Linked DNA regions of Homo sapiens: all the other regions are linked to region 3. The links come from fine-mapping of genetic effects on plasma protein levels. A gene starts in region 3. Each other region holds a variant in brackets. All regions are shown on one strand. Distances are between the middles of the regions.

What was found. PIP is the chance, under the fine-mapping model, that this variant and not a neighbour inherited with it causes the effect. The UK Biobank Pharma Proteomics Project read protein levels with antibody pairs (Olink). The fine-mapping took linkage between variants from a reference panel, not from the people measured, so its PIPs are less certain.
Region 1: its variant is fine-mapped to the plasma level of the HPGDS protein (UK Biobank, PIP above 0.99).
Region 2: its variant is fine-mapped to the plasma level of the HPGDS protein (UK Biobank, PIP above 0.99).
Region 4: its variant is fine-mapped to the plasma level of the HPGDS protein (UK Biobank, PIP above 0.99).

What each region holds. Positions count from the first base shown.
Region 1 is chr4:94,384,746-94,392,852 of GRCh38, reverse strand. No RefSeq gene overlaps it. Among named protein-coding and RNA genes, the nearest start is that of HPGDS, 46 kb to the right of the region's middle. RefSeq lists an enhancer at 7,753-8,107. The variant C/T (reference allele first, on the strand shown) is at 4,643.
Region 2 is chr4:94,355,363-94,363,469 of GRCh38, reverse strand. No RefSeq gene overlaps it. Among named protein-coding and RNA genes, the nearest start is that of HPGDS, 17 kb to the right of the region's middle. The variant T/G (reference allele first, on the strand shown) is at 4,337.
Region 3 is chr4:94,338,596-94,346,702 of GRCh38, reverse strand. HPGDS (hematopoietic prostaglandin D synthase) reads left to right here and starts at 3,867. Exons shown (of 6, transcript NM_014485.3): 1 at 3,867-3,908.
Region 4 is chr4:94,294,484-94,302,590 of GRCh38, reverse strand. It overlaps HPGDS (hematopoietic prostaglandin D synthase), which reads left to right. Exons shown (of 6, transcript NM_014485.3): 5 at 347-445; 6 at 2,947-4,056. The coding sequence ends at 3,111. Among named protein-coding and RNA genes, the nearest start is that of HPGDS, 44 kb to the left of the region's middle. The variant T/C (reference allele first, on the strand shown) is at 3,885.

The DNA of each region.
Region 1 (8,107 bases), 46 kb before region 3:
GTCTCGATCTCCTGACCTCATGATCCGCCTGCCTCGGCCTCCCAGAGTGCTGGGATTACAGGCATGAGCCACCGCACCTCGCCCTATTTTTGTAATTTTAGTAGAGATGGGGTGCCATTTTGACCGGGCTGATCTTGAACTCCTGACCTCAAGTGACCTGCCCACCTTGGCCTCCCAAAGTGCTGGGATTACAGGCGTGAGCTGTCACACCTGGCATCAGTAACTGAGTATTTAATACAAGTAACCTCAACTTAGTTCTTCAATTTGAATAGATCCTTTAGGAAAGAGGAAGACTATTCGACTAAGACTAATAAACTAAGTATATTATTGAAGCTAAATTATTTGTCCTCCATTCTATCTCCACTTCCCACCTCCCCAGCTGTAGAGCCCTGGAACTGCTCCTTCATCATCAGCACAAACTCCGGTCTCCAAGGAGCCCCTTCACTTGCCTTACTGCAGGGCTGGTGCTCTCCAGCAGCCCAGTGGAGTGGTGGATGTGATTCTTTCAAACGTCAGAGACTTTGCTATCTAGATGCAAGATTAGAAAACTTTCTGCTCCTCATTTCATCTTTCAGAACATGACCCACCCAATCTCTTGTGAAAAGGAATCCTATTTCTTAAGGCTTATACCATTTTACCTCTATAACCTGCTAATTTTCTTTGTCATTGCTATCATTTGATTACTTTCCTTTGATCATCAAAAACTTTGCACTTGATTCAGAGTCTTTCCCCTGCTCTAATTCCTGCCATCATTGTGGGTGGTTTCAATACCCATAGTATCTTTTCGATGCTCTGATTTCTCATTTTCTTACCAAACTCATCTTTTACGGCCTTTTCTACACTCAGTTATCTCTTCCCCTGGTCTGGATCTTTTAATGAAATTCTGGATCTTTTAATGAAAAAGAACAAAATTATCAATATTCCAAATAAATGGCTTAGACATTGAGCACTCTTACCATAATGTCTCATTTTTCTGGATTGATTCTTTAACTACTCCTACCTTGATGATCCTTCAGTGAAGGTCCAGTCCCCATTTCTATATCCTCTCCCTATGTTTAATTATCTTCCTATTCAGTTTATAGTTCATGGCCCATAATTCTAAGAACAATTTTGTCAGTGCCATAAACTGTCTTATCTCTCCTGTTTAGCAAAAACTAATGCAGTGTGACCTCCACTCTTTCATTTTTGTATATCTTAACCTGGATAACAGACCAATTTTGGAGAAAAATCACAAAGTAGGGCATATCCATTCAATAATACTGGAAATTTGCTATCGTCAACTTCAACTGGACTTTCAACATGGCCCTAAAATCCTAGTGTGTTTCCCTAAGCAAGTTGCTTTCTTACTTGCTGGACTGTTTTACATTTTCTGTGCTCTACTTTATGCCTTAGACTCTTATCCCATTTTCCCTTTTAGCCCAGATAAAATCAAAATCAACTTCCCACTACCTCACCATCTTCCGCTTATCTCTTCCCATTCTTGTCTGGTGCATCGGTGGAGAATCCCCTTCTCTTGTCTTCACCTGTTTTCCACCTTTGCCCAGGAATTCTCCTATTCTTGCCTTTAAAGAACCTTAGATAATGGATTCTCCCTCCTCTCCACTGTCTCTTCAACTTCTTTGCTTTTAATGAGGTTTTCTCATCAACATTTTAATTTGATCTTTGAGAAAGCTCAGCTTAAAAAAAATCCTTCTCCAACTACATGGTACATTTTAACATTTTTAGTATCATTAACAGTCAAAATCTATAAGCCATTTTGAGGTGCAGCCTCATCAATGCTACTTTTCCTGTGCACCTGAACCCAATTGCATGCTACAATATATTCAAAGTTAACCTCCTCTTGCCAGCAGGTGGCTCTGTGTCAAAAAGGGAAAAGGAAACAAAATAAAAATACAAATTGTGAGATCTACAATCTAAGATTTGGACCCAGGTCCTGGTCCCTACTACTCATTTTTTTTATACTTTAATGGTTACTACAGGAAAGCTACTTACTATCCAGAGAAGAAGAGATATCCATGAAGAAACAAATTAATAAAAAACTAAAGCAGTTATTTCAAGGAGATTTCAAATGAACTTCAGATCTATATGTATTTTGTTTTTTTTAAATTAACATAGCCAAAAAGATAAGAGGAGGAAAAATGGTAAGTACATTTAAAATGACTACACACATATCTCATTTTAGTGATCTTTGCTTTATTGATCTTCATAGATATTGCGTTTTTTACAAACTGAAGGTTTGTGGCAACCCTGTGTCAAGCAAGTCTATTGGCACTAGTTTTCCAACAGCATGTGCTCACTCCATGCCTCTGTGTAATTCTTGCAATATTTCTAAATTATTATTACATCTGTTATGGTGATCTGTGATCAGTGATCTCTAATGTTACTACTGGAATTGTTTAGGGGTGCCATGAACTGTGCCCTTATAAGATAGTGAACTTAATCAATAAATGTGTGTGTTCTGACTGCTCTACCAACCAGCCTTTTCCCTGCTTCTCTCGCTCTCCTTGGGCCTCCCTGTTCTCTGAGACACAACAGTATTAAAGTTAGACCAATTAATAGCAATGGCCTCTAAGTGTTCAGCTGAAAGGAAGAGTCACATGCCTTTTACTTTATTTTTAAATTTATTTTTATAGAGCCAGAGTCTTGCTCTATTGCCCAGACTGGAGTGCAGTGGTACAGTCATGGCTCACTGTAACCTCGAAATCCTGAGTTCAAGCAATCCTCCTACCTCAGGCTCCTAAGTAGCCAGGACTACAGGCTTGCACTATCACCCTTGGCTAATTTTTAAACTTTTTGTAGACATGGGGTTTCACTTTGTTGCCCAGGCTGATCTCAAACTTCTTGTCTCAAATGATTCTCCTGCCTCAGCCTTCCAAAATGCCGGGATTACAGGCATGAATCACCACACCCAGCAGTGACCCTCACTTCAAGTTAAAGGCTAGAAATAAGCTTAGTGAGGTAGGTATGTCAAAAGGCTGAAAGCCAGGCCTCTTGTGCCAAACAGCCAAGTTGTGAATGCAAAGGAAAAGTTCTTGAAAGAAACTAAAAGTGCTACCCCAGTAAACAGGTGAATGATACGAAAGTGAAGCAGTCTTATTGCTGATAGAGAAAAAGTTCGAGTGGTCTGGATAGAAGATCAAAGCAGCTAGAACATTCCCTTAAGCCAAAGCCTCATGCAGAGCAAGACCCTATCTCTCTTCAATTCTATGAAGGCTGAAAGAGGAGAATACCGCAGAAGAAGAGTTGGAAGCTAGCAAAAGTTGGTTCATGAGGTTTAAGGAAAGAAGTTGTCTCCATAATATAAAAGTACAAAGTAAAACAGCAAGTGCTGATGGAGAAGCTGCAGTAAGTTGTCCACAAGACCTAGCTAAGACAAAGAATGAAAGTGGCTAAACAACAGATTTTCAATGTGGACAAAACAGTTACATTGGAAGAAGATGCCATCTAGGACTTTCCTAGCTAAAGAGAAGTCAGTGCCTGGCTTTCAAACTTCAAAGGACAGGCTGACTCTCTTGTTAGGGGCTAATGCAGCTTGTGACTTTATGTCAAAACCAACGTTCATTTATCATTCTGAAAATCCTAGAGCTGTTAGTGTTAGGCCTCTGAGCCCAAGCCAAGCCATCGCATCCCCAGTGACTTGCACCTATATGCCCAGATGGCCTGAAGTAACTGAAGAATCACAAAAGAAGTGAAAATGGTCTGTTCCTGCCTTAACTGATGACATTGTCTTGTGAAATTCCTTCTCCTGGCTCATCCTGGCTCAAAAACTCTGCTACTGAGCACCTTGCGATCCCCACTCTTGCCTGCCAGAGAACAAATCCCCTTTGACTGTAATTTTCGTTTACCCAAATCCTATAAAACGGCCCCACCCTTATCTCCCTTCATTGACTCTCTTTTTGGACTCAGCCCACCTGCACCCAGGTGAAATAAACAGCCTTGTTGCTCACACAAAGCCTGCTTTGTCTCTTCACACAGACACGCATGAAATTTGGTGCCGTGACTTGGATTGGGGGTCCTCCCTTGGGAGATCAATCCCCTGTCCTCCTGCTCTTTGCTCCGTGAGAAAGATCCACTTAGGACCTCAGGTACTCAGACCCACCAGCCCAAGGAACATCTCAACAATTTTAAATCGGGTAAGCAGCCTCTCTTTACTCTCTTCTCCAACCTCTCTCACTATCCCTCAACCACTTTCTCCTTTCAATCTTGGCACTACCCTTCAATCTCTCCCTTCTCTTAATTTCAATTCCTTTTATTTTCTGGTAGAGACAAAGGAGACACGTTTTATCCGTGGACCCAAAACTTCGGCGCCAGTCATGGACTCGGGAAGGCAGCCTTCCCTTGGTGTTTAATCATTGCAGGGATGCCTCTCTGATTATTCACCCATGTTTCAGAGGTGTCTGACCACGTAGGGATGCCTGCCTTGGTCCTTCACTCTTAGCTAGCGGCAAGTCCTGCTTTTCTGGGGGAGGGACAAGAACCCTGACCCCTTCTCTCCCTGTCTCTACCCCTTCTCTGCTTTTCTGGGGGACAAGAACCCACTGATCCCTTATTTCCGCACCCTGACCCCTTATCTCTGTGCCCCGATCCCTTATTTCCATGCCCTGATCCCTTATCTCTGTGCCCCAATCCCTTATTTCCATGC[C/T]CCAACCCCTTATCTCTGCACCCCGATCCCTTATTTCCACACCCCAACCTCTTATCTCTGCACCCTGATCCCTTATTTCCATGCCCCAACCTCTTATCTCTGTGCCCCGATCCCTTATTTCCATGTCCTGACCTCTTATCTCTGTGCACCAACCCCTTATTTCCACACCCCAACCCCTTCACCACTTTTCTGGGGGGCAAGAACCCCCAAGCCCTTCTCTCCATGTCTCTACTCTCTCTTTTCTCTGGGCTTGCCTCCTTCACTACGGGTAAGCTTCTGCCCTCCATTCTCCCTCCATTCTCCCTTCTTCTCCCTTAGCCTGTGTTCTTAAAAACCTAAAACCTCTTCAACTCACACCTGACCTAAAACCTAAATGCCTTATTTTCTTCTGCAATGCTGCTTGACCCCAATACAAACTCCACAGTGGTTCCAAATAGCCAGAAAGCAGCACTTTCAATTTTTCCATCCTACAAGATCTAAATAATTCTTGTCGTAAAATGGGCAAACGGTCTAAGGTGCCTGACATCCAGGCATTCTTTTACACATCAGTCCCTCCCTAGTCTCTGTTCCCAGTGCAACTCATCCCTAATCTTCCTTCTTTCCCTCTCGCCTGTCCCCTCAGTCACAACCCCAAGCGTCACTGAGTCTTTCTAATCTTCCTTTTCTACAGACCCATCTGACCTCTCCCCTCCTCGCCAGGCCAAGCTAGGTCCCAATTCTTCCTCAGCCTCTGCTCCTCCACCCTATAATCCTTTTATCACCTCCCCTCCTCACACCTGGTCCGGCTTACAGTTTCATTCCATGAGTAGCCCTCCCTCACCTGCCCAGCAATTTCCTCTTAAAAAGGTGGCTGCAGCTAAAGGCATAGTCAAGGTTAATGCTCCTTTTTCCTTATCCCAAATCGGAGAGCATTTAGGCTCTTTTTAATCAAATATAAAAACCCAGCCCAGTTCATGGCTCGTTTGGCAGCAACACTGACATGCTGTACAGCCCTAGACCCTAAAAGGTCAAAAAGCCGTCTTATTCTCAATATACATTTTATTACCCAATCTGCTCCCAACATTAAATAAAACTCCAAAAATTAAATTCCAGCCCTCAAACCCCACAACAGGACTTAATTAACCTCGCCTTCAAGGTGTACAATAATAGAAAAAAGTTGCAATTCCTTGCCTCCGCTATGAGACAAACCCCATCCACATCTCCAGCACACAAGAACTTCCAAATGCCGGAACTGTAGCAGCCAGGCGTTCCTCCAGAACCTCCTCCCACAGGAGCTTGCTACAAGTGCTGGAAATCTGGCCACCGGGTCAAGGAATGCCTGCAGCCCAGGATTCCTCCTAAGCCATGTCCCATCTGTGCGGGACCCCACTGAAGATCGGACTGTTCAACTCACCTGGCAGCCACTCCCAGAGCCCCTGGAACTCTGGCCCAAGGCTCTCTGACTGACTCCTTCCCAGATCTTCTCGGCTTAGTGGCTGAAGACTGACACTGCCTGATCACCTCGGAAGACCCCTAGACCATCATGGATGCCAAGCTTTAGGTAACTTTCATAGTGGAAGGTAAGTCCGTCCCCTTCTTAATCAATATAGAGGCTACCCACTCCACATTACCTTCTTTTCAAGGGCCTGTTTCCCTTGCCTCCATAACTGTTGTGGGTATTGACGGCCAGGCTTCTAAACCTCTTAAAACTCCCCAACTCTGGTGCCAACTTACACAATACTCTTTTAAGCACTCCTTTTAGTTATCCCCACCTGCCCAGTTCCCTTATTAGGCTGAGACACTTTAACTAAATTATCTGCTACCCTGACTATTCCTGGGCTACAGCCACACCTCATTGCCACCTTTTCTCCCAGTTCAAAGCCTCCTTCACATCCTCCCCTTTTATCTCCCCACTTAACCCACAAGTATGAGACATCTCTACTCCTTCCCTGGCAACCAATCACATGCCCATTACCATCCCATTAAAACCTAATCACCCTTACCCCGCTCAACGCCAATATCCCATCCCACAACATGCTTTAAAAGGATTAAAGCCTGTTATCACTCGCCTGCTACAGCATGGGCTTCTAAAACCTATAAACTCTCCTTACCATTCCCCCATTTTACCTGTCCTAAAACCAGACAAGACTTACAGGTTAGTTCAGGATCTGCGCCTTATCAACCAAATTGTTTTGCCTATCCACCCCGTGGTGCCAAACCCATATACTCTCCTATCCTCAATACCTCCTTCTACAACCCATTATTCTGTTCTAGATCTCAAACATGCTTTCTTTACTATTCCTTTGCACCCTTCATCCCAGCCTCCCTTGGCTTTCACTTAGACCGACCCTGTCACCCATCAGGCTCAGCAAATTACCTGGGCTGTACTGCCACAAGGCTTCACAGACAGCCCCCTTTACTTCAGTCAAGCCCAAATTTCATCCTCATCTGTTACCTATCTTGGCATAATTCTCATAAAAACACACCTGCTGTCCCTGCTGATTGTGTCCAACTAATCTCCCAAACCTCAATCCCTTACAAAACAACAACTCCTTTCCTTCTAGGCATGGTTAGTGCGGTCAGAATTCTTACACAAGAGCTGGGACCGCACCCTGTAGCCCTTCTGTCCAAACAACTTGACCTTACTGTTTTAGCCTAGCCCTCATGTCTGCATGCAGCAGCTGCCGCTGCTTTCATACTTTTAGAGGCCCTAAAAATCACAAACTATGCTCAACTCACTCTCTACATTTCTCATAACTTCCAAAATCTATTTTCTTCCTCATACCTGACACATATACTTTCTGCTCCCCGTCTCCTTCAGCTATACTCACTCTTTGTTGAGTCTCCCACAATTACCATTTTTCCCAGCACGGACTTCAATCCGGCCTCCCACATTATTCTGGATACCACACTTGACCCTTATGACTGTATCTCTCTGATCCACCTGACATTCACCCCATTTCCCCATATTTCCTTCTTTCCTGTTCCTCACCCTGATCACATTTAGTTTATTGATGGCAGTTCCACCAGACCTGATCGCCACTCACCAGCGAAGGCAGGCTATGCTACAGCATCTTCCACATCTATCATTGAGGCTACCACTCTGCCCCACTCCACTACCTCTCAGCAAGCCGAATTAGTTGCCTTAACTCAAGCCCTCACTCTTGCAAAAGGACTACACGTCAATATTTATACTGACTCTAAATATGCCTTTTATATTCTGCACCACCAAGCTATTATATAGGCTGAAAGAGATTCCCTCACCACGCAAGGGTCCTCCATCATTAATGCCTCTTTAATAAAAACTCTGCTCATGGCCGCTTTACTTCCAAAGAAAGCTAGAGTCATTCACTACAAAGGCCATCAAAAGGCGTCAGATCCCATTGCTCTAGGCAACGCTTATGCTGATAAGGTGGCTAGACAAGCAGCTAGCTTTCCAACTTCTGTCCCTCACGGCCAGTTTTTCTCCTTCACACGAGTCACTCC
Region 2 (8,107 bases), 17 kb before region 3:
ATTAGAGTTAAAGAGATAAGAGAAAAAAAGGTTCTAAAAGGAAATGAGTCTAGTTTGATTTTTTTTTTTTTTTTTAGATAAAAGATAAAGGAGCCGGAAAAAGAGGTCTGTGACTAAGCTTGTTTAACATGGTAACAGTGAGGGTGGTCACATTCTTAGTTGGTCATTAAATATTTTGGTAGGTTGAGAATGAAGAAAAGCAAACACAATCAAGGAAATCAAGAAGATATTTTACTCCCTGGCACAAAAAATACGAATGATTCTCAATCCATTAAGTAATTCCAAATTAAAGGTTTTTCTGAAAAAAATTAACTTCATATGAATTTTATAGCAGAGCAAAATAAGACAATTTAACATGAATGCACAACCGATGATGAAAAAGTAGCATTTTATTATCTTTCCTATAATCTGTTACTCTTATTTTTTCTATAAGATTCAGACCTGAAGTGAATCTGCAGGCCTGAATTTTAGGTTGGCTATTTTCTAACTAGTGTACTTGGACAAGTCACCTATTCTTTCTGTGCTTGGATTCTTTATTTGTAAAATAGAGATTATAATAGTACCAATTTTATGGGGTTGTTGGGAGGAGTCAATGAGAAAATACACTTGAAATACTGAGAAAATTATCTAACAGGTAGTAGACAAGGTAGTCAATAAATGTAGTAAGTGTAGTCAATAAATGTTAGCTACTATTATTATTTCTGAGACATCAGAAATAATAATAATAATCAGGGTCAAATGCCAAAGGAAACTTAATTGAATTGTGAGATAGCAATTCATTATTTATGCAAATTATTTTTTCAAAGGCACCGAGACTATAACTGCAGAGCACTGCATTGGATTACCTTTCCCAGAGACAACTATCGCATTGTGCTCTGGACACAATGTGTGGTCAAACCAAAAATTCTTTCCTTCCCTTAACTCTTCATATGTTCCTCTCCTCCTCTGTAAGCTACAAACAGACACAAGAATAGGATCTGACTTGATTCTCCTCTGAATTCCCAGAGCCTATCACAATACCGGCACTTTGTAAATGCTTACTAGATGTTGTTCAAACAAATGATTGATAATGACCACATTTGTATTTTGCCTTTGAATTTTTTTCTGAGCACCAGATGCACAGAACCATATATCAATTAGATATTTCCACTTGGATTTCTCACAATTACCTCATGATGAACCTCTTAGTGGGCTCTTCACTTGGCTTTTTTTTTTTTTTTTTGTCTTGGCGTCATGCAACAGATACCTAAGGCACGTGTTTTCATAATGTCACTGTTTTCTTCCTGTCTCTGGGATTTGCTCTTTCCTCTCCATTGCATTGCAACAGTTTCCTCTTGTCTCTTTGCACCCCGTCATTAGTCTTTACAGAGCTCTCTTCCCATCCCAGAGTCCAACACATTCTCTTACAGAGCATTCTTCCTAAAATGCAAATCTAATAATGACACTTTTTTTTTGTATAAAATCATCCAGTGTCATCCATAAAAGACTGGCTAAAATTTTAATTCCTCAATATGGCATAGTAGGCATATTTTTTTTCTCCTATCTATATCCAGTTTCCCCTTTCTCATTTTCCAGCTTACCCAGACATCCTGGGTTGTTTGCAGTCTCTGAACAGTTCCTCTATGCTCACAGACCTGGGATTTTAAAATATGCTGCTCTCACCTCATGGAGCATTCCCTTCTCCCCTTTACCTAGTCAATTCTAAAGTTTGTATCTCCTCCTTTGGGAAATATTTTCTAGTCTCCATATATTCATTTTCCACTCTATGCTCACCTCTACCACATTCCCAGTTGTATAACTGTCTTTTCACTTCCATGCACCCATTATTAGACTATTAGTTCTTGAGGCGAGAAGAAGGAGCATTAAATAGGGAGTCAGGAGAGGTAGCCTCTACTCTCAGCCTTGCAACCAACACTTAGTTCCATCATAGACAAAGTATGAATGATGCTGGATCTCAGCTTTTCTTGCAGGTCTTACCTAGATTATCTTTATATGGAATCTAAGTAGTTCCATACAGAACATTTAAAAATATATTTGTGATATCTTTTATTCTATCGCATTTCTGCAAACACTGATTTCCATTTGACAAAGTCACTTCAGCAATCCTTATTGGCTGCAAGTCACAATCTACAAGGAGACCATGACCCAGAAGCAAAGCAAGTGAATCAGAAACACCTTTCTGCCCTCTACCATATAATTTTCCCTAACTAAAGTAAGTATTGTAAAGGCTCAAAACAAAATAAAGCAAAAACAACTATGAGTTTTGTAATGTATGAACATAGGGTGTTAAGAGGCAAATGCCAAGAGAGGAAGCTGGATACAGGTAGGAAATTTATGAGGATGTGCCTGGATTATAGTGTAAGGATTAAGAGCAATGATTTTAAAGACAGACTGCTTGGGTTCAAGTCCATATTATTTTCATTATTAGTTGTGTAATTGTGAGCAAGTTCTGATCCTCAGTTTTCTTACTTATCAAATAGGAATAATAATAGTAGTAGTAATAATTAAAAATAGTAAAAAATAATAGTAGTGGTAAAATACTTATAAGAATAACAGTAGTAGTAACAATAATACAAAACCCCATAGTGCAGTTATGAAAATTAAATATATTAATTAATATGAAGTACTTAGAACAATGCCTACTGCCAGTAAGTTATGTTAGCTAAGAGTATTGCTAAGATGTAATCAAAGACAGTAACTTAATCAAATCACAAAATAGGGCCACTGTATCTATCTCAAAAGAAAAAGTCAATGATGTTCTTAAGAACTGATATATTTGATTGGAGATCATTCAGTAATAATTGATTGAAATATTAACTAGAATCATCAACATAAATGGTGGCATTCTACATAGGGTGCCACTAGTTATATATATGACTATACTGGAGAAGATGATGAAATTTTTCTTTGAAAACAACCAAAACGCTTAAGTATCACTGACCAGGAATTGAAACATTTCTTTTGTTATAAGCCTTTGGAATTTAGTTGAGTAGTGATCATTTTATGCAGATCAGATTTAAACACATATTTAAATTAATAAAATACCAATAACCAACTAGAATTAAATTGTTCATAACAGAAAATTATTTAAATAAAAATTCAACAAAATGAAACAAAAAAATTCAGTAATTATGCATAGACTCACTGCATAATAGCCTGTCTCACCACACAAACACACACACAAAACCACGTGGAAAACAATATCCTGATTCTGTGATGGATGAAAACCTAGGTCAAATTTATGTTAAAAGCAAACAGCCACTTGGCTTAAGAATCCTGGCTGAGATACTTGACAATAATCTCCAGGATCTTAGGACCATCAACTCTGTATTAAGCATTGATCCCAATGGCCTAAAATTGAACGTCATTTGAGCTGTGCACATACTTTGGCTTGAAGATGGACATTGAACCATTAATTAGTTTTCCATGCAAACATTTTTTGTAAGGTTTGGACATCAGATAAAGCAGTCCAACATTTTTCAAATTAAAAGCATTCATATGACATCTCTGGGGGAATAACTGGCAAATACAAATACAAGTATCGAACACACATGCTAGAAAGACAACAGGCATTTTGCTTTGCGCTTATGATAATGACTTAATTCAAAACCGAGCTCAGTTTGGACAGTATGTTTACTTATTTGTTTATTTCAATGAATCGGAAAGGACATGAGTTATATTTTCTGTATCCAATAAATGTTATTATTTAAAACTAAGCCAAATACATTCAGAAAGATTTTGGCAGGCGCTAAAGAGTCACTGGTGTGGTAGTCACTCAAGGCTCAAACCAAATAACATATGATGAAAGTTCAAGCTCAATTTGGAGAATATTTTTAAGTTCTGGTTTAACTCAGGATGGAAAGGTTTTTTTTTCAAATATTTTTATTGTGATAAAATATACATAACAAAAAATTTACTTTTTTAACCATTTCTAAATGTATAGTTTAGGGACATTACACTGTGTACATTCAAACTGCTGTATAGCCATCACCACTATCCATTTTCAGATCTTTTTCACTATCCCAAAGGATGAGTAGCTTTAGAATATATACACGTTTGGCTTTTTCCCATTTGATTCCTTATAAATGTCTTTTGGAAGAAACTCTTGATTACTTCACAGTTCCTTTAAAGAATGTGTATCTGAGTTTACCATATGAGTTCAATTTGTTCAAATGGATGCTTTGCTGTTTGTTTTTTAATTCTCTGCTTGGGATCACTAATAAATAGCCCTACTGCGCATAAGGCTTAAGGCAGTCCCAATGAGCAGAAGGTTACCTTGGATTATATTTCCATTCAGTGTGAAACAGTGTAAGAATTAAAAAATAGTGTCAGTACT[T/G]AGGCACCTGAATGATCAATATTCCACTTCATCAAATAATTTTTGGATCTATTGCCACAGTGATCCCATTTTTTAAAGACACATCTTGAAAAAAGGTGAAAGAAAGAAAACCAATGGTTTGAGGCTAAGAATTCAGTCTCTATCTCTCTAACCAAGCTAAATAACCATACGTTTCATTTCAAGACCACTGGCCTCCAAATATTAGGCATAGAATTAATAGAGCTAATGGATGACTACTTGAATTTGGAGTAAAGCTTTATGCTTTGAGTTTAGCTTGGGACAGGCATTACAATTTTACTGAGTTGGCTAGAGGGTTAGTGAGATTACCTTGATACTGACTCTGATTTAGAAGCTAGTTCCATAGAGCCTGATAATCCATAAATGACATGGAGTGTAACACCCACAGAACTCTAGAACATCAGGGAAAGCCAAGCTCCAGGTTGTTTCTACTTCACATAGACTTCTTAGGTGTGTAACCCTTGAGGGAAGGAAACTTGCTTATTTTGCGCACCACTGATTTCTGGAATAGTGCCAGGCAGATAGAAGGCACTCAAGAAATAGTTCTAGACTGAAAGAATATCCCACCCCACCAGCTCCCCACACCCCACCCCCTCCAACAGACACACACATCTCTTGTTTACAACAGCATGAAGGTACAAATGAGGTCATGTTAACATCAATTTTTCCAAATTTAACAGGCTCTGTGCCTCACCTTCTTGACTGACAGTTATTAGCATCCCTCTTCCAAAATCTTCAGTTTTTTGTAACATCCCCAGAGTATGTCTCACATGTGTGTAAGAACAAGTCTGGTCTGGTTCTCCTGACTTGCCTTCCTTGTTGCTGCTGCCTGTTACCTACAAGCACCTTGAGGGAGTGTCTCCTCATGATCACTGCCTTAGCTAAACAATGTGAGAATGGGAAAATGTTGCTGCCTTCAACAAGGGTGCATGTCCTGATGCTCCTGCAACTGAGAAATCTTGGGATGGCAAATGGTACAAGAAATAGAATCCTCTCCTCATCCCAACTCAGTGCTACACTTTGACACAGAGATCCAAAGCAGTACTCACAAAATTGTTTATGAAAAGACCCCCATTCTCTGCTTCCTGCAACCCTACAAATCTAGTTTTGGGGCCAGGCAAGGAGAACACAAACCTGAGTTTTCTCTGTCTTCCTATCCCTTTTCTTTCACTCACTGATAGACTGATAGAAAAATGTTCTCCTCTCATGCTTATGAAATAATTCAAGTCAATATCTTGGATGAAGGGCTGACTCATTGACCCAATGCCTGCAGCCAGACTCTGAATCCTAGCTTGGGATCTGCTGAGATACCCCATCAAGTTGTAGAACAATTTGTTTTCATTAAATGAATCATCGTTGATAGAAAAGTTACAATTCAGATTGACTTGGCATAAGTCACGTATCCATCTCTGTGTTTGGGAAGGTAGAGCAATGTGATGGAAAGCCCCATTAGAACCCAGTGGAATGGGGAAAGGGGATGCTAGATTGTTGAGAAAATAACAAGACCCACTATTTTCTTTAATTAGAATTAATTTTATGATAAACTGGGCGTGGTGGCATGCACCTAGAATCGCAGCTACTTGGGATGCTGAAGTGGGAGGATCTCTTGAGCCCAGGAGTTCAAGTCCAGCCTGGGCAACATAGCAAGAATCTGTCTCTTAAAATAAAAATGTATGATAAACTAAAAAGACATTTCTTTCTCATCTAATGGGCTTGAAATCAGATAATCACTAAAACTATGCCTAGAACATTTCTTTCTTCAAAGGCTGGACATTAAAAATTTGGATTTACTAAGAGAACTATAAAATACAGCAACACCTGTAGTAGGAAGTGTCTCACGCAATGCCAAGAGCATAAAAAAAAGTGTACAAATCCCTGTGTTATCAGAAGGCCCTGCATGTTGGGCATCTATTATTTGCTGTCCAGCATCATCCTCTGCTTTCTGGAAACAGCATCCTAAAACTACAACCCCCATTCCCAGCCAAGTGGTTGGCGTAGGATTGATCTTTGGATCTGGAGTGAGCCTTTATTGGTTTTCCCTGATCACCATACCCTCCACCACCACTCAGGACACAGTGATTGGTTCAGAGATGAGCACATAACCCAGTCACCCAGGAGCAAGGTACGGCTTTTGTGGGCCCTGGGTACTTTTGCCTACGTGGACACCTTCCTCCATACAAAAAAATTAAAAATCTTATTTTAAATGGCACTGATATAGATACATTGATATTGTTAATAAGACATTTTCCTTGAACTAGAAGTGTTTTTTTCATTTGATTTTGAAAGAAATTAAAACATTTTTCATAGGCCCCTGAAAGTATTGCAGGCCCTAGGCACAGGGCCTTGCAGTCAGGCAGTGAGATTCTAGATGACATTTGCCAGGCCTCTGGGAAACAGAAGCCTTCTATTCTGCTGGATTTGGTGGCAAAAGACCTTTGGGCTTGCACCTGCTCAGATATTTTCAACCACAAGGGGTAATCTCGGAGTAGCTGGAAGCCATGAGGAGGAAGCTGGGAATGGCACTAACTTTATATAAGCAGAACCGAGGGATGAAGCTGGTGATAACAGCATGAGATCAGGCAGCCATTTCTATATCCAATACAATTCTTTTTTTATTTTTTTCTGAAGTCTGTGTAATTTGGGGTTGCTGTTGAACAGGGTCCTCCCTGAAACAACTGCCTAATGAAAACTTAAAAAGCAAACACTGCTTGTGTTGTTACTGTAGGCATGTTATGGAAGAGGCTCGATAATTCCATTTAACATTTTATGATGTCTTAGTGCAACTTCACTGCTTTCTTTTCATAGTTCTTTTCTTTCTCTGATTCATATTGGTCAGAGCGATTGTTTACAAATGAAATGTACTCCTGTTGCTTCCTTACTTAAAATCCTTCAGTGATTCCTCACTGCCTGGGGTACAAGCTCCATGAGGTTCAGTCTGGTGGGTTAGGCTCAGACAACACCTGCCTCCCACCAGGATCCCTGCTTTACATAGAGATTGGAATGTCTTCTTCACTCTTACTTCTGTGCCTTTACTTGAACCTTCCCTCTGCCTGAATGCTTTTCTTCTTTCCCACACTTTCTCATCTTCAAGTTTTGGCTTAAGTATTACATAGCTATTGCTCAATAAAAGTTTATCAAGTTGACTATATCTAAACTCTAAAAGAGAGTTGAGACTTAGTTGGGCTTATTGATCATAAATGCACTGTTCCTATGACTGTGTTTAAACATACAGTTAAGGCTTAGTTCTCTATACATATATAAGAAATAGTGGGTAGAGCATGCTATTAGCAACTGACAGAGTTCTCAAGGAGAAAAGTTTACATGTAGTTTCCACAGGCTTCTTTCTTTCCATCATGCCATGAGAGACTTGCTATGGTCTGACCTGTGCTTGCTTTTCAGACTCATCTACCTGGAGCTAGATGCTAGCTAGAACTCTGGCCCTGATCAATACTAACTTACCTCAAAGGCATTTTTCTATTGGGAAGACTTTCCTCCATCCTTAGCAGTCAATTATCTTTCTCTCTGTTATCCTTGAATCTTTTTTTGTTTTTCAGACGAAGTCTTGCTGTGATGCCCAGGCTGGAGTGCAATGGCATGATCCCGGCTCACTGTAATCTCTGCTTCCTGGGTTCAAGCGATTCTCCTGCCTCAGCCTTCCAAGTAGCTGGGACTACAGGCATGCGCCACCAAGACTGGGTAATTTTTGTATTTTTAGTAGAGATGGGGTTTCACCATGTTGGTCAGGCTGGTCTC
Region 3 (8,107 bases):
CAAGTGCTTGGTTCAATGCTTGGCCCACAGGAAATACTTAATGAATTTTAGCTATTTCTATTACTATTATTTGCCTACATATAGGAATCCTCTTTTAGCCAAAAGGCTAGGTAGTGAAAGATTTGCTCATAATCTTGGATATAATTACCATATCATTCTTCACAGTATCTGAAGAGGCAGACTTCAGATAATAGCATTATCATTATTGAAATCTGGGAAAACACAGACACTAAAATATTTGCAGGCATGTTTCAATTACTCAAGTAGGTTAGAAGCAGAAAAACATATTCTTTATTTCCTGTATTTTCAACCCCAGGTTTAAATACGTCACTTTTACATGTTTTTAGTTTTTCAAATAACTAACTATAAAAAGGAAAACTGTTTTATTAAATAAAATATACAAAAGTAAACCAGACCACTCTAGAATCTGAGCAAAGGAAGTTTTGTGGGCTTCTCCTGGATACTTCTCCCCTTCCCCATCAACAGACAAGCTAGAAAAGGAGAAATAGGTTTGTTTGAACACTTCTCTTTTACAAAAATAAATAAAGAGGAACAAATATGTGGGCCACGTTTTAAAAATTGTATGTGTTTTTCCATTACTTATCGAGCAACTGCTTGCTAAGCAAGGCACTAAGTGACTTAAATGCACAAACTCATTGAATCCTTTCAACTCTGAGTAGAATGATTTTTATCATCACCATTTTACAGATAAGGAAACTAAGGCAGCTGCCTAAAGTCCCAGAGCTTGCAAATAATGGAGTGGAGATTCCTCTAAGAGGTCATGATTCCAGGATGAAACTCTTTAATCACTATCTTGTATAGTCACATTACTACACAGGTGGGCAAATAAAGAAAACAAGGACAGAAATGGACTATGATTTAACGTTGGATTTTTAACAGCAGTTAGGAATTTGCTAATTCAATACCACAGGATTAAAAGTTTTCCAACTAGGAAGCCCCAGAGAAAATGAAGACATATTTATTAAATTATAATAGGCCTTTAAATGACTGTGTGGACATGATCATACAACTTGACACGTTTTTTCACGGGTATTTCTCATGCAGTCCAGTCTGGATCCACAACATGCTCCTGAAGGGTGTGTGGCATGAAGAAGTCACTGCCCTGGAGAGCAGGGAACTGAGAGGTAACAATCCATGAGGGGTTTTCACTTTGCCCTTGCCCTTTTCCTCCTCCCTATTCCAGTAGACACTTGGCTCCGTGCTCATTTCCTCAGAAGAGGATGAAGCAGGGTGAAAAATGAAAGTTGCCTGACAGCTACTTCTCTTTCTGCTGTTAGTGCCCAAACCCAACCACAGAAAAGGAAAGAATTCTTGAGCATAGATTCTTGAAGGGAAACGATTTTCCCTTCAGGTGAACTGCTAATAATATTAACAATTGCTCTCACTCATGGATCCCTAACTATGCATTAGGCACACTTTGAAGCACATATCTGTGTACTCATTTAATTCTGTAAAAGCTTATGAGAGAGTTATTACTAATATTGTTAGAATGCTCCATGAAGATTTGTTTTTGTCTGATTTTATTTAGTGCTATATCTCTATTTATTTACTTATTTATTTTTGAGATGGAGTCTCGCTCTGTCGCCAGGCTGGAGTGTAGTGGCACGCTCTCGGCTCACTGCAATCTCTGCCTCCCGGGTTCAAGCGATTCTCCTGCCTCACACTCCCGCGTAGCTGGGATTACAGGCGTGGGCCACCACACCTGGCTGATTTTTGTATTTTTAGTAGAGATGGAGTTTCACCATGTTGACCAGGATGGTCTCCATCTCCTGACCTTGTGATCCACCTGCCTCGGCCTCCCAAAGTGCTGGGATTACAGGAGTGAGCCACCGCGCCCAGCCTTATTTACTGCTATATCTCTAGCGTTCAGAACAATACCTGGCAAAGATTAGGAACAAATAAATATTTATTGTAGAATCAATCTCCATCTAAAGGTGAAGGAGCTCAGGCACAGAGAGATTAAGTTACCTGCCCAAAGGCCCACAGCTGGTAGAAGACTAGGAGAGTTAGAGCACCCCCACCTGGGCTGGGAGAAGAGACAAGAGGATGGGAAAGCTGTGCTTCCCGAGTAGAGGAGATCTGGGACCCTCTCCTGGGACCCTCTTGTGCCTCCAGGGAGGTAGAAAGACCACAGAGAAGAAGTGGCTCTGTTGGGTACTGGGCAGGTGGAATCTCAGGCAGCGTTGTGATGAAACCACCACACTGGGGCAAGAAGGTAGCAAAATGAGAATGCTACAGGAGCTGCAGAGAGCTCCTGGCGTGGAGGCCATGCACACAAGGACAATGGATGCCTCTAGAGCAGCCTCTGTTGATCGGTGACCAAGGATCAAGTGGCTGCTCCTTCCCCAATCCTTGATGTGTTACTCTGCTTTCCTCCAGCCAAAACAACTGGTCGTAAAAGATAAAATTGTAATACAAAATGAGAAAAGTGTTATTTTTTGTATACTTGATTTTTTTTTAACTGAAGCAGTCTCGTATTATATATAGGCAGCATTATGTAAGGAAAAATATTAAATGTGTCATCAGAAGGCCTAGATTTTAATCCTAGCTTGTCCCAACAAAAATTCGCAGGCAATTTACCTAATTTCCCTATGTCTCAGTTTCCTCATTTATAAAAATAGGGATTAAAAATCATTGAGGTGAGGATAAAAAGATTTTTTTGAAAATATAAGTTAAAGCTGTCAAAGATAATAAATGCATTGTGTTAATTTTGTATAGCTCCCACTCCCATCCCATTTGCACTTGATTTTGACACACATGTATCCTTTTTTGGTGGGTAAAGGGCTACACTTGCGTCTTCTCTTTTTACATACTAGTATTTACATTTATTTTCATTTCTGACGTTTATACTAAGTGGATGTAAACATATTTTTCAAAATTAAAAGCACTTTAGAAATAAGAAATATTAAATGATTGATATGTTGCTATTGTTGCCTGTGGGAGTAATTTTCTGGAAGTTGAAAGCCAGCTGGTCATTGAAATGTTTCATGGATAATCCTCAGGCTCAGTAAGGCCCAGGCAGGCATTTTATTGGATCTTTTCACTGAGCTGTCCTAATATTATAGATAAAAATAATTCCTGCACTAAGAAGTGAAACAATAAATTTCTAAAATGTCAGGCATTTGTTACTAAATTGTAAAAGGATCACAAACAAGATGAATTGGAAACTTCTACACCAGGTTTACTTTAAACACTTTGGCTTTTCTGAGAAATGAGAGTAAATGAAATAAACCAGCAACAATGCAAATTTACAGTCCTTGCAAAAACGTGAACTATAAATTAGGGTTATTCTATCATCAGATGTATATTAGTGGTCATGACATGCCTGGCACTCCTCTTAGAACTGAGGAGACAATAGTGAAAAAGACAGTGAAGTGCCTGCCTTTACAGAGCTTACATTCCACTGGGAGAAACCAAAAACAAACAAGTTAAATACACCACATTGTTAGACACTGCCTCGAAGGAACATACAGCAGGTACAGGAGAGACTGTTTCTAAAATAGAGAAGCAAGTCATGTGCACATCTGCAAAGATGATTTCATTACATTCAGGTTTTCTTATTCTCCAGGAGCCTATGGTGTAAAACTGAAAATAAGTGAACATGTAACAGTGGGCATACATATGCAGCTATAACTTTGACTTTACCTTGTATACAAATGTGTTGGTTTATTTATACCCAGATATCCTGTATAACCAGCAGTCTTCGCAGGCTTGAACTGCCTGGCATGCATGTTTTATCTAAGAAAAGAAGGAAGAGCGTTAGGTAGAAGGAAGTTGCCTGTCCTCTCACTGGCTCGTGATTATCACTTACTCGTCATATAAACCCAAGGCACAGTCACATACCCAGGGATACAAGACACTGCAGACTCCCGAGAGACATAACACAGGTAAGTCATATTACTGAACTCCACATAGGTAATAAATGAGATATGCTTTACTCTTTACTTCAGAGTTTTTATTATTCTCATATCCTGTTTGTGACTAACTGTCTTGTGAGCTATTTTCATGATGGTGCTCACTCTGACCTTGTCTTACCCAGAACCTCTCCATATATGCGAATATGTGAAACTCAAATAGTCATTTTTAAGGAAATATAGGTACAGGAGATTTAAGAAGATCTCTTCAAGTGGATTTTAACATAGAAAATATAATCAATGCTAGAGGAAAAATCCTGTCTTAATCAGGGTTTGTTACTACTTCCAGAATTTTCCCAAGTGATTCTTCAATAACTTGGATTGATGGAGTAGAGAATATTATCTCATGGCTGTTCAATTTCTTTCCTTTGCTTTAAAGTTTAAGACTTTTACTGGTAATATTTTATATTATTTTAAGGCACATTTTGTTGAAGCATCTCCATGTTTTGATAAGAATTGCAACCTATCATCTTTTGGCTTCAGAGATGGTTTAAGGGATTTACCCCAGGCCAGGAATTTCAACTCACAGCTCCCAAAGGATATTTCAGTTATTCCTCTTGCTTTGGCTTTAATGTGAAACAGTCACTTAAAATGACATTTAGTTGATATTTGATAAAAAAAAAAAAAATAGAGCTTTCAGCTTGCTAATTCAAAGTTAAACATCCAGTGCTTGATTGAAATCAATATCTTACTCAGTCAACAACAATTCTTCTATTTCTCTATTGTCCTATAATTTAACTCCAACCTGGCAACTTTTCCAGAATTGAACTTGAAATGCCCAGGGACACTGTGAAATGAGGGAAATTAACATTCTTTACCATCAAATGTTAGGGGTAATAAAAAGCTGTTTTAATGTCAGTATATGCAAGAAGTTCCCCTGTGAACAATAGTATCTCACATGATTGCTGTCTGAATCCAATTTTTACATTTCAGAACACCAGGGTCTATATAATAGGAGTGTAAACATGCTCTAGGCCATTACATTTTGTATAAGTTTATTACTGGGCAAGTTAAGATCTGCATCTTAAACTCAAAGAAGAGCTATAGCAAATTCACAAGTAATCTTTGTTTTTATATCTCTAACTCAGATTATTGCGCAATTACTAAGCATGTAAAAAACTGTGTCTGGAATGCCCAAATATGTTTGAATTCTTGATGTGTCGTATTTAAGAGTAAGAGCTTACGTTGGCTAACATTTTGTATTGAACTGTAGAATGGTCAATACTTAATTCCTCATTTGTAAGTTTTCTATCTAACAAAATTATTCCAAAAGTTCTCTTTTTTGAACTAAAAATATTTCGGCTGAAGTCTTTATTAAGATGTTTAGTATAGGCATTGGATATTGATTAGCCTGTGTTGTCAGAGAGTTGAAATTGGATTGTTGTCATCTTTCTGGCACAGAGACTAGAATTTTTGAGACTATTTTTTACTGTGCTTTTACAGCAGTATACGGAATAATATATTGTTAAATTGTTTTATTATAAAAGTTTGTAATTTTTTCAATGATTATGTTAAAATTGCCTCTGGGATTGAATTAATCAGATGAAATAAATCAGCATTGTATTAGTTAGTTTTCACGCTGCTGATTAAGACATACCTGAGACTGGGTAATTTATAAAGAAAAAAAAGTTTGGCCGGGCGAGGTGGCTCAGCCTGTAATCCCAACATTTTGGGAGGCCGAGGCTGGCGGATCACCTGAGGTTAGGAGGTCCTGGCCAACATGGCGAAACCACGTCTCTACTAAAAATACAAAAATTAGCTGGGCGCGGTGGTGGGCGTCTGTAATCCCAGCTACTGGGGAGGCTGAGGCAGGGAGAATCGCTTGAACCCGGGAGGCGGATGCTGCAGTGAGCCGAGATTGCGCCACTGCACTCCAGCCTGGGCGACAGAGCAAGACTCCGTCTCAAAAAAAAAAAAAGAAAGAAAAAAAAAAAGAAAAAAATTTGCCGGGCGTGGTGGTTGGTGCCTGTAATCCCAGCTACTCTGGTGGCTGCGGCAGGAGAATCGCTTGAACCCGGGAGGCAGAGGCTGCGGTGAGACGAGATCACGCCATTGCACTCCAGGCTGGGCGACAAGAGTAAAACTCCGTCTCAAAAAAAAAAAAAAAAAAAAAAAAAGGGAGGGGGGCGGGCCGGGCCCGGTGGCTCACCCCTGTAAACCCAGCACTTTGGGAGGCTGAGGCAGGCGGATCACGAGGTCAGGAGATCGAGACCACCCCGGCTAACACGGGGAAACCCCATCTCTATTAAATATACAAAAAAATTAGCTGGGCGTGGTGGCGCGTGCCTGTAGTCCCAGCTACTCGGGAAGCTGAGGCAGGAGAATGGCGTGAACCCGGGAGGTGGAGCTTGCAGTGAGTGGAGATCACGCCACTGCACTCCAGCCTGGGCGACAGAGAGAGACTCCGTCTCAAAAAAAAAAAAAAAAAAAAAAAAAAAAAAAAAAAAAAAAAAAAAGAGAAAGAAAGAAAGAAAGAAAGAAAGAAAGAAAGAAAGAAAGAAAGAAAGGTTTAGACCAGGCACAGTGGCTCACACCTGTAATCCCAGCACTTTGGGAGGCCCAGGCAGGCGGATCACAAGGTCAGATGATCGAGACCATCCTGGCCAACATGGTGAAACCCCATCTCCACTAAAAAATAAAATACAAAAATTAGCTGTATGTGGTGGCGCACACCTATAATCCTAGCTACTTGGGAGACTGAGGCAGGATAATCGCTTGAACCCAGGAGGCGGAGATTTCAGTGAGCCCAGATTGCGCCACTGCACTGCAGTTCCACATGGCTGGGGAGACCTCACCATCATAGCGGAAGAGGAAGGGATGTCTTACATGGCAGCAGGCAAGACAGAACCAGAGCCAAGTTAAAGGGGAAATCCCTTATAAAATGATCAGATCTCGTGAGACTTATTTACTACCATGAAGTCAGTATGGGGGAAACCGCCCCCATGATTCAATTATCTCCCACCGGGTCCCTCCCATGACAAGTGGGAATTATGGGAGCTACAATTCAAGATGAGATTCTGGTGGGGATATAGCCAAACCATAACAAGCATTCTATAAAGTAAAAAAAAGCTACAAGAAAGAAAGAGAAAGAAAGGAAGTACCCAAGATAGTACTTTAAAAACACTGTTATTTCCCATATAAAAGAGCTTATTTCCTAATGCATATATTAATATTAAAAGTTAAATCTTCTGCAGTGGATAGCTATGTTCATATGAGTTTATATGTCTAAGTTTTTATCCAGGGTATTTATTAGTCGTTTATGTGTTCTTTGATAAACCGTATAGGTTATTTTTCAAACAGAATTCTAAATGAGCTTTTTATCTATCTGCTGAATTAGTAACTTTACACGATATACTTTGGGGTGTAAGGAAGCCAGTGGTTAATTTTAGATGCAAAGATCTTTAGATGTAAATATCTTCAAACACAATCAGCTTTTAAACTTCAGGCTTCTGTATCATTTCAGGAAACATGCAGTTTTCTCTACATGAGATTCTTAACACAACGACAGTGGAAGGGTTCAGAAATGAAGCTAACAGGAAATAAGGGACCAGAATGATACTGCAGTTTTGCTATGCTAGTCAAATCATACCAAGATAACCTAGATGTTATTTCTGTGTTTGATAGAAAGTTGGGGTCTAATTATGCTTATTTTCCCTCTATTGTCTCAGAACCATTTTAGTCTAGTTTCAGTCTCAGAACCATTTAGTCCTCACTCTATGTCATGTCTGTCCTATATATGAGGTTCTGTTTTAAGACAATGCACCTCTGAGCAAATACCGCATTACAAGGCTTTTTATCTAAGTCTTGCTATCTGGTACATCAGGTCCTCCTCTCCTGTTCTCTTTTTTTCTTTGTCTTGGCTATTTTGGTCCTTAGCATTTCCATTTGAAATCTAGGATCCAGTTTATCTGTAGAATCTCTCGAAGTTTAAATATAGACAATCATTTTGGACACAGCAAATGGATGCTGTGTCGCTCCCTTCCTACTACTTAACAAATGTTATTTATTGTTGTCTTACATTATTGAATTAGCTAGGCTGTCCAGCATTATGCTGAATAGTAGATGTTATAGTGGGATTCTTGTTACTTCTGACATTAAAGAAAATGCTTTTATTGATTCACCATTATGTATTATATTTGCTATAAGTTTTTAGTAGAGACTCTTTATATGGT
Region 4 (8,107 bases), 44 kb after region 3:
AGAGGGAAATTTTAGGAATCTAAAAAGACAAGAGAATCATTTCACTTTAGTAAATTTAAGAAAAAATAAGATTTTGTGGGTAAAATATTTAGTCATTATACACAAAGAAACTAAGAACTGGTGACACAAAACTATTTTTTTAATCCATGAGCAATAAAGAGATGACTCACATCTATAGAGAATCAGACCTAAATCTCCATGTCATAAATTTGAATAAAAAATCTAGCTACTTCTCTTTCTTCTTGAATTCATGTGGGAGAATAAAGATGGAGAAATCTACTTCCTCCTCAGATCATGTTACTTTTCTTCTCATTATTCTTAAAGTGATATTTTCTCCTTCTCCTAGGAGCAGATGTTCAATGAGCTGCTCACGTATAATGCGCCTCATCTTATGCAAGACTTGGACACATATTTAGGGGGGAGAGAATGGCTTATTGGTAACTCTGTGAGTATGTTTTATATCTTAAAAAATTCAAGCAAATAAAAGGACAAACCAATAGAAGTATAAAAACTTACTGAAAAAAAGTTACCTATAGGGAGGGGATAGAATTTACAGCAAGAACAAAGGTTAAACTTCTTTAAATAAACCTTTTTAAAAAATAGATTTGACTTTGGAACCATATTTTATATAATTATATATTGGCAGCGAAAACTTAAAAAGCTATCCTAAAAATCAAAGCAAAGTAAATGAACCTAACTATGCAAAAGAGGTGCATAGAGAACACACAGAATACATATGTACTCTACTAGAGAAGAACTATTTCAAGAAGTATCATTTGTAAAACACACTAATCTGATTATACATCTAAGACAGATATCTCTTAGCTTAGAACAACAAAAAATCATATACTATTTTCAGTAATCATATTGTTGGTGGTACTACAAACTATTGGTATTTTTTTTCTGGTATTATTATAATTATATTGTGGGTACAAAAATAAATTGTGTTGATGTCACTGAGAACCAGGATCTTCAATGTGGGAGAACGGAGATAGAGATGTAAGGTGAGTAAGGTCAAGTAAATATCCATTCCTGAACTTGAACTACAGCTAACAGTATAAACTCATATGTATTTTATATCAGGATAAATTATGAAGCATTTTATATCTCGATCAGTTGGAAAAAGTTTGTCTTCATGAAAGTATTCCAGTTAATAGATAAGAAAGAAAGACTGAAATAAACTATCACCACTTTCCAACCCCAGAAAAATTAATTGGCGTAGGCATGGACCATCAATAATCACAAAAAAGTTAGACAACCAGATACTAGGCACACTACCACCTAGTAGTCTTGCCAAAAAATTCAAATCTAAACCTGATTACAAGTTGTGGTAGGTGGAGGTCTCTACCTTCAGGGAGACTGCATTTTGGGAGATAAGACTGCTTTTTTGTAGCATGCTGACACTCTGCTGTCTGCCCTGTTCAGCCCTTCTGGGTGATACAGAACTACATTTGCCACATCTTTATTCTCAACTTTCAACCTCTTCACATACCCCTTCATTTCTTCTGACTCCCCTCATAGCCTTTACTAAAATGCTCCTCTCCCTGCCCTATTGAAAAATTTCTAAGAATTTATTTTTCATTTTCTATTAAGATTCCTTTGTAAATGATGTTCTGATCTCATCTCTGGGCACTCTCTCCCTTCTTCACAGTGCTCCACACTGGTGTGTGTGTCCCTCAGACCTAACTCACATTCCCACTTAAGGGCCTTTACGCATTTCCCTATACCTGGAACGCTTAATCCCCAGATTGCTCACTGCAGGTCTTAATCTTTTTTTATATTTAAGCCTGGGCTTACGTGTCACCTCTTAAAAAGTCCTCTCTGACCATGTCATAGTCCATCACATGACTTCACTTTTTTTTTTTCCTAACCCCTATCATTTTGCATATTTGCTTTTCCCTTCTAAAATAAAAGCTACATGAGAGAAGGGCTTGCATCCTACCTTGCTCTCCAGCACCTAAACCTGGGCATGGCACACAGTAGGTGCTTGATAAATATTTGAATAAATTCTGGATTTATTCTGAATTCTGAGTCTTCCAGCCAGTAGCTTCTCTTGGCTGACAGATGTTTAATAAGTTCCTGAGGCACTAGCAATCAGCTTTATTAAATTCTATACAAAAAGAAAAAAGAGTGGGCCACATTTAAACTTCACTCTTTGATAATCATATGGAGCCAAAGTAACAGCATACAGATTAGTTTCTAACACAAAGATAAAAACATACAACTGTACAATGGTAGGACCAGGCTGTCATCACTAATCCAGTGGCCAATCTTGGCATACCCCTAATGGTCAGACATCCATATATTCTTTTTATGTGATACAATATAATGTATTTTAGCCACAAATATTTCACTTGAAATTATATACCCTCTAAGAGTAACCTGCACCTTCCTTTATACTACGTAGTACAAAGGAACAAGGTAAGATGAAATACAAAGGTCCTGAAGATAGAACATTCTGTAGGACTAGTGTGAAATCTTCAATAATTTGGTGATGTGAAAAAAAGGGTACTGCTTTGAAGAGTTAATGGACATAAGCAGATCAAATGCATAGACCTGGAATAGATCCTGCTTTGTCCTGTAAAGGGCAATTTTAGAACAGATGGAAAAATACGTATTGGTTATTGGATAAGGAAAATGTATTGTCACAGAGAGGTGGAGACTGGACAAGGTTACAAGAGTATGTACCATTAAGATCTCATGTTAGTAAAACAACATCTATCAGCATAGAAAAATATCTTATACACGAAAATGTTTAATAGTAGTAACCTGATTGCTGGAGTGTGATATCAGTAATTTTCTGAACTTCTATCATATAAACATTCTGCTTTTGTAATAACAAGATTGTTTTGAATCTTTTAGATTAAGAAACTAATTTCAATTTTGGAATGCTGATACAGCTACACTTTCTATGTTCAAATGAAAAGTTTGTTTCCTTTAAACTAGGTAACTTGGGCAGACTTCTACTGGGAGATTTGCAGTACCACACTTTTGGTCTTTAAGCCTGACCTGTTAGACAACCATCCAAGGCTGGTGACTTTACGGAAGAAAGTCCAAGCCATTCCTGCCGTCGCTAACTGGATAAAACGAAGGCCCCAAACCAAACTCTAGCTGATCCATGTTGCCTTCAAGTTTGTTTTTCTCGGGGGCATCTCTCTCATCAGATAAGACAGCTACATCAGCCTGCCAGATAATCCACATGCTCCCTCCCCAGCTCCACTAAGATTTTCACTTTAGCCATATTCTGATTTTTAAAAAGGAAAATAAAAACAAATCTTTCTTCAGTATCTTTTTCTTTCAGAATAGCTTCTCATCATTTACAATTACAGAAAAATAGTATGTAATACAGGCAGACCTTGCTTTGCACAGGTTCTAACATGCACGAATTGCAGTCATAATGGTTTAGCAACACCATTCTTCCCCTCCCCCAAAATGTTTTGGACTTCAGCTACCACAATTACCTGTAATTGCATAAAACACAAACTTTGCTAGTAGCTCTCCAGTTCACATATCGCTGTGTAAATAACCTATGTACATCATGACCAATGACCAGTCACTTCTATCAAAGACTGCCAGAGGTCACTGCACATCTGTTATTCCTGCATAGATAGCAAAGTGTGTAGTTGTATTGCTATTGCCTGCTTGTGGCCCAGTGATAAATCCCTTTGACATTTTACAAAAATGAATCAAAAGAGGGAACTCCCCAACAAAGATGAAAGTGCAGCAAAGGAACAAAAACTGATAATCCTGGAATGAAATTCAAACTGAATATAAAGAGTTATCGAGAAAAGAGCTGACTGTGGGAATCTGACACGGCTCAAAAGGCTCTAGATATGCAGCCAGAGAAACTTGTAAAGATGAATTTACTGACATGAATAAAGTTG[T/C]TGTGATGAGAAAAATGTAGATACCCCAGAGATCAAGAGAAGGAGAAGACAAGCCACAGACTTGGAGAAAATACTTGTAAAACATGTATCTGACAAAAGACTATTATTCAAAATTATATAGAACTCATAAAACTCGGCTGACTCTCTTTTCGGACTCAGCCCACCTGCACCCAGGTGAAATAAACAGCCACGTTGCTCACACAAAGCCTGTTTGGTGGTCTCTTCACACGGACGCGTATGAAATTTGGTGCCGTGACTCGGATTGGGGGACCTCCCTTGGGAGATCAATCCCCTGTCCTCCTGCTCTTTGCTCCGTGAGAAAGATCCACCTATGACCTCAGGTCCTCAGACCGCCCAGCCCAAGAAACATCACACCAATTTCAAATCCGGTAAGCGGCCTCTTTTTACTCTCTTCTCCAACTTCCCTCACTATCCCTCAACCTCTTTCTCCTTTCAATCTTGGCGCTACACTTCAATCTCTCCCTTCTCTTAATTTCAATTCCTTTCATTTTCTGGTAGAGACAAAAGAGACACGTTTTATCCGTGGACCCAAAACTCCGGCGCCGGTCACGGACTGGGAAGGCAGCCTTCCCTTGGTGTTTAATCAATGCAGGGACGCCTCTCTGATTATACACCCATGTATCAAGGGTGTCAGACCACGCAGGGACGCCTGCCTTGGTCCTTCACCCTTAGCGGCAAGTCCCGCTTTTCTGGGGAAGGGGCAAGTACCCCAACCCCTTCTCTCCTTGTCTCTACCCCTTCTCTGCTTTCCTGGGGCAGGGGCAAGTACCCCTCAACCCCTTCTCCTTCACCCTTAGCGGCAAGTCCCGCTTTCCTGGGGCAGGGGCAAGTACCCCTCAACCCCTTCTCCTTCACGCTTAGCGGCAAGTTCCGCTTTCCTGGGGCAGGGGCAAGTACCCCTCAACCCCTTCTCCTTCACCCTTAGCGGCAAGTCCTGCTTTTCTAGGGGGCAAGAACCCCCAAACCCCTTCCCTCCGTGTCTCTACGCTCTCTTTTCTCTGGGCTTGCCTCCTTCACTATGGGCAAGCTTCCACCTTCCATTCCTCCTTCTTCTCCCTTAGCCTGTATTCTTAAGAACTTAAAACCTCTTCAACTCTCACCTGACCTAAAATCTAAGTGTCTTATTTTCTTCTGCAATGTCGCTTGACCCCAATACAAACTCGACAGTAGTTCCAAATAGCCGGAAAACGGCACTTTCAATTTTTCCGTCCTACAAGATCTAAATAATTCCTGTCGTAAAATGGGCAAATGGTCTGAGGTGCCTGACATCCAGGCATTCTTTTACACATCAGTCCATTCCTAGTCTCTGTGCCCAATGCAACTCGTCCCAAATCTCCTGCCTGTCCCCTCAGTCCCAACGCCAAGCGTCGCTGAGTCTTTCTAATCTTCCTTTTCTACAGACCCATCTGACCTCTCCCCTCCTAGCCAGGCCAAGCTAGGTCCCAATTCTTCCTCAGCCTCCACTCCTCCACCCTATAATCTTTTTATCGCCTCCCCTCCTCACACCTGGTCTGGCTTACAGTTTCGTTCTGTGACTAGCCCTCCCCCACCTGCCCAGCAATTTATTCTTAAAAAGGTGGCTGGAGCTAAAGGCATAGTCAAGGTTAATGCTCCTTTTTCTTTATCCCAAATCAGATAGTGTTTAGGCTTTTTCATCAAATATAAAAACCCAGCCCAGTTCATGGCTCGTTCGGCAGCAACCCTGAGACGCTTTACAGCCCTAGACCCTAAAAGGTCAAAAGGCTATCTTATTCTCAATATACATTGTATTACCCAATCTGCTCCCGACATTAAATAAAACTCCAAAAATTAAATTCTGGCCCTCAAACCCCACAACAGGATTTAATTAACCTCGCCTTCAAGGTGTACAATAATAGAAAAAAGTTGCAATTCCTGGCCTCCACTGTGAGACAAACCCCAGCCACATCTCCAGCACACAAGAACTTCCAAATGCCTGAACTGCAGCGGACAGGCGTTCCTCCAGAACCTCCTCCCCCAGGAGCTTGCTACAAGTGCCAGAAATCTGACCACTAGGCCAAGGAATGCCTGCAGCCCAGGATTCCTCCTAAGACATGTCCCATCTGTGCGGGACCCCACTGGAAATTGGACTGTTCAACTCACCTGGCAGCCACTCCCAGAGCCCCTGGAACTCTGGCCCAAGGCTCTCTGACTGACTCCTCGGCTTAGCGGCTGAAGACTGATGCTGCCCGATCGCCTCGGAAGCCCCGTAGACCATCACGGACCCCGAGCTTCGGGTAACTCTCACAGTGGAAGGTAAGTCCGTCCCCTTCTTAATCAATATGGAGGCTACCCACTCCACATTACCTTCTTTTCAAGGGCCTGTTTCCCTTGCCTCCATAACTGTTGTGGGTATTGACGGCCAGGCTTCTAAACCTCTTAAAACTCCCCAACTCTGGTGCCAACTTAGACAATACTCTTTTAAGCACTCCTTTTTAGTTATCCCCACCTGCCCAGTTCCCTTATTAGGCTGAGACACTTTAAATTATCTGCTTCCCTGACTATTCCTGGACTACAGCTACATCTCATTGCTGCCCTTCTTCCCAATCCAAAGCCTCCTTTGTGTCCTCCTCTTATATCCCCCCACCTTAACCCACAAGTATAAGATACCTCTACTCCCTCCTTGGCGACCGATCATGCACCCCTTCCCATCTCATTAAAACCTAATCACCCTTACCCCGCTCAATGTCAAGATCCCATCCCAAAGCATGCTTTAAAAGGATTAAAGCCTGTTATCACTTGCCTGCTACAGCATGACCTTTTAAAGCCTATAAACTCTCCTTACCATTCCCCCATTTTACCTGTCCTAAAACCAGACAAGGCTTACAAGTTAGTTCAGAATCTGCACCTTATCAACCAAATTGTTTTGCCTATCCACCCCGTGGTGCCAAACCCATATATTCTCCTATCCTCAATACCTCCCTCTACTACCCATTATTCTGTTCTAGATCTCAAACGTGCTTTCTTTACTATTCCTTTGCACCCTTCATCCCAGTCTCTCTTTGCTTTCACTTTGGCCCTGACTCAGCAAATTACCTAGGCTGTACTGCCGCAAGGCTTCACAGACAGCCCCCATTACTTCAGTCAAGCCCAAATTTCATCCTCATCTGTTACCTATCTCGGCATAATTCTCATAAAAACACACGTGCTTTCCCTGCTGATCATGTCCGATTAATCTCTCAAACCTCAATCCCTTACAAAACAACAACTCCTTTCCTTCCTAGGCATGGTTAGTGCGGTCAGAATTCTTACACAAGAGCCAGGACTGCACCCTGTAGCCTTTCTGTCCAAACAACTTGACCTTACTGTTTTAGCCTAGCCCTCATGTCTGCGTGCAGCGGCTGCCGCTGCTTTAATACTTTTAGAGGCCCTCAAAATCACAAACTATGCTCAACTCACTCTCTACATTTCTCATAACTTCCAAAATCTATTTTCTTCCTCATACCTGACGCATATACTTTCTGCTCCCCGGCTCCTTCAGCTGTACTTACTCTTTAAGTCCCACAATTACCATTGTTTCTGGCCCGGACTTCAATCCGGCCTCCCACATTATTCCTGATACCACACCTGACACCCATGACTGTATCTCTCTGATCCACCTGATATTCACCCCATTTCCCCATATTTCCTTCTTTCCTGTTCCTCACCCTGATCACGCTTGATTTATTGATGGCAGTTCCACCAGGCCTAATCGCCGCATACCAGCAAAGGCAGGCTATGCTATAGTACAAGCCACTAGCCCGCCTCTCAGAACCTCTCATTTCCTTTCCATCGTGGAAATCTATCCTCAAGGAAATAACTTCTCAGTGTTCCATCTGCTATTCTACTACTCCTCAGGGATTATTCAGGCCCCCTCCCTTCCCTACACATCAAGCTCGAGGATTTGCCCCACCCAGGACTGGCAAATTAGTTTTACTCAACATGCCTGAGTAAGGAAACTAAAATACCTCTTAGTCCAAATAGACACTTTCACTGAATAAGTAAAGGCCTTTCCTACAGGGTCTGAGAAGGCCACCGCAGTCATTTCTTTCCTTCTGTCAAACATAATTCCTCAGTTTAGCCTTCCCACCTCTATACAGTCTGATGACGGACCAGCCTTTATTAGTCAAATCAGCCAAGCAGTTTTTCAGGCTTTTAGTAGGTTTCAGTGAAACCTTTATATCCCTTACGGTCCTCCGTCTTCA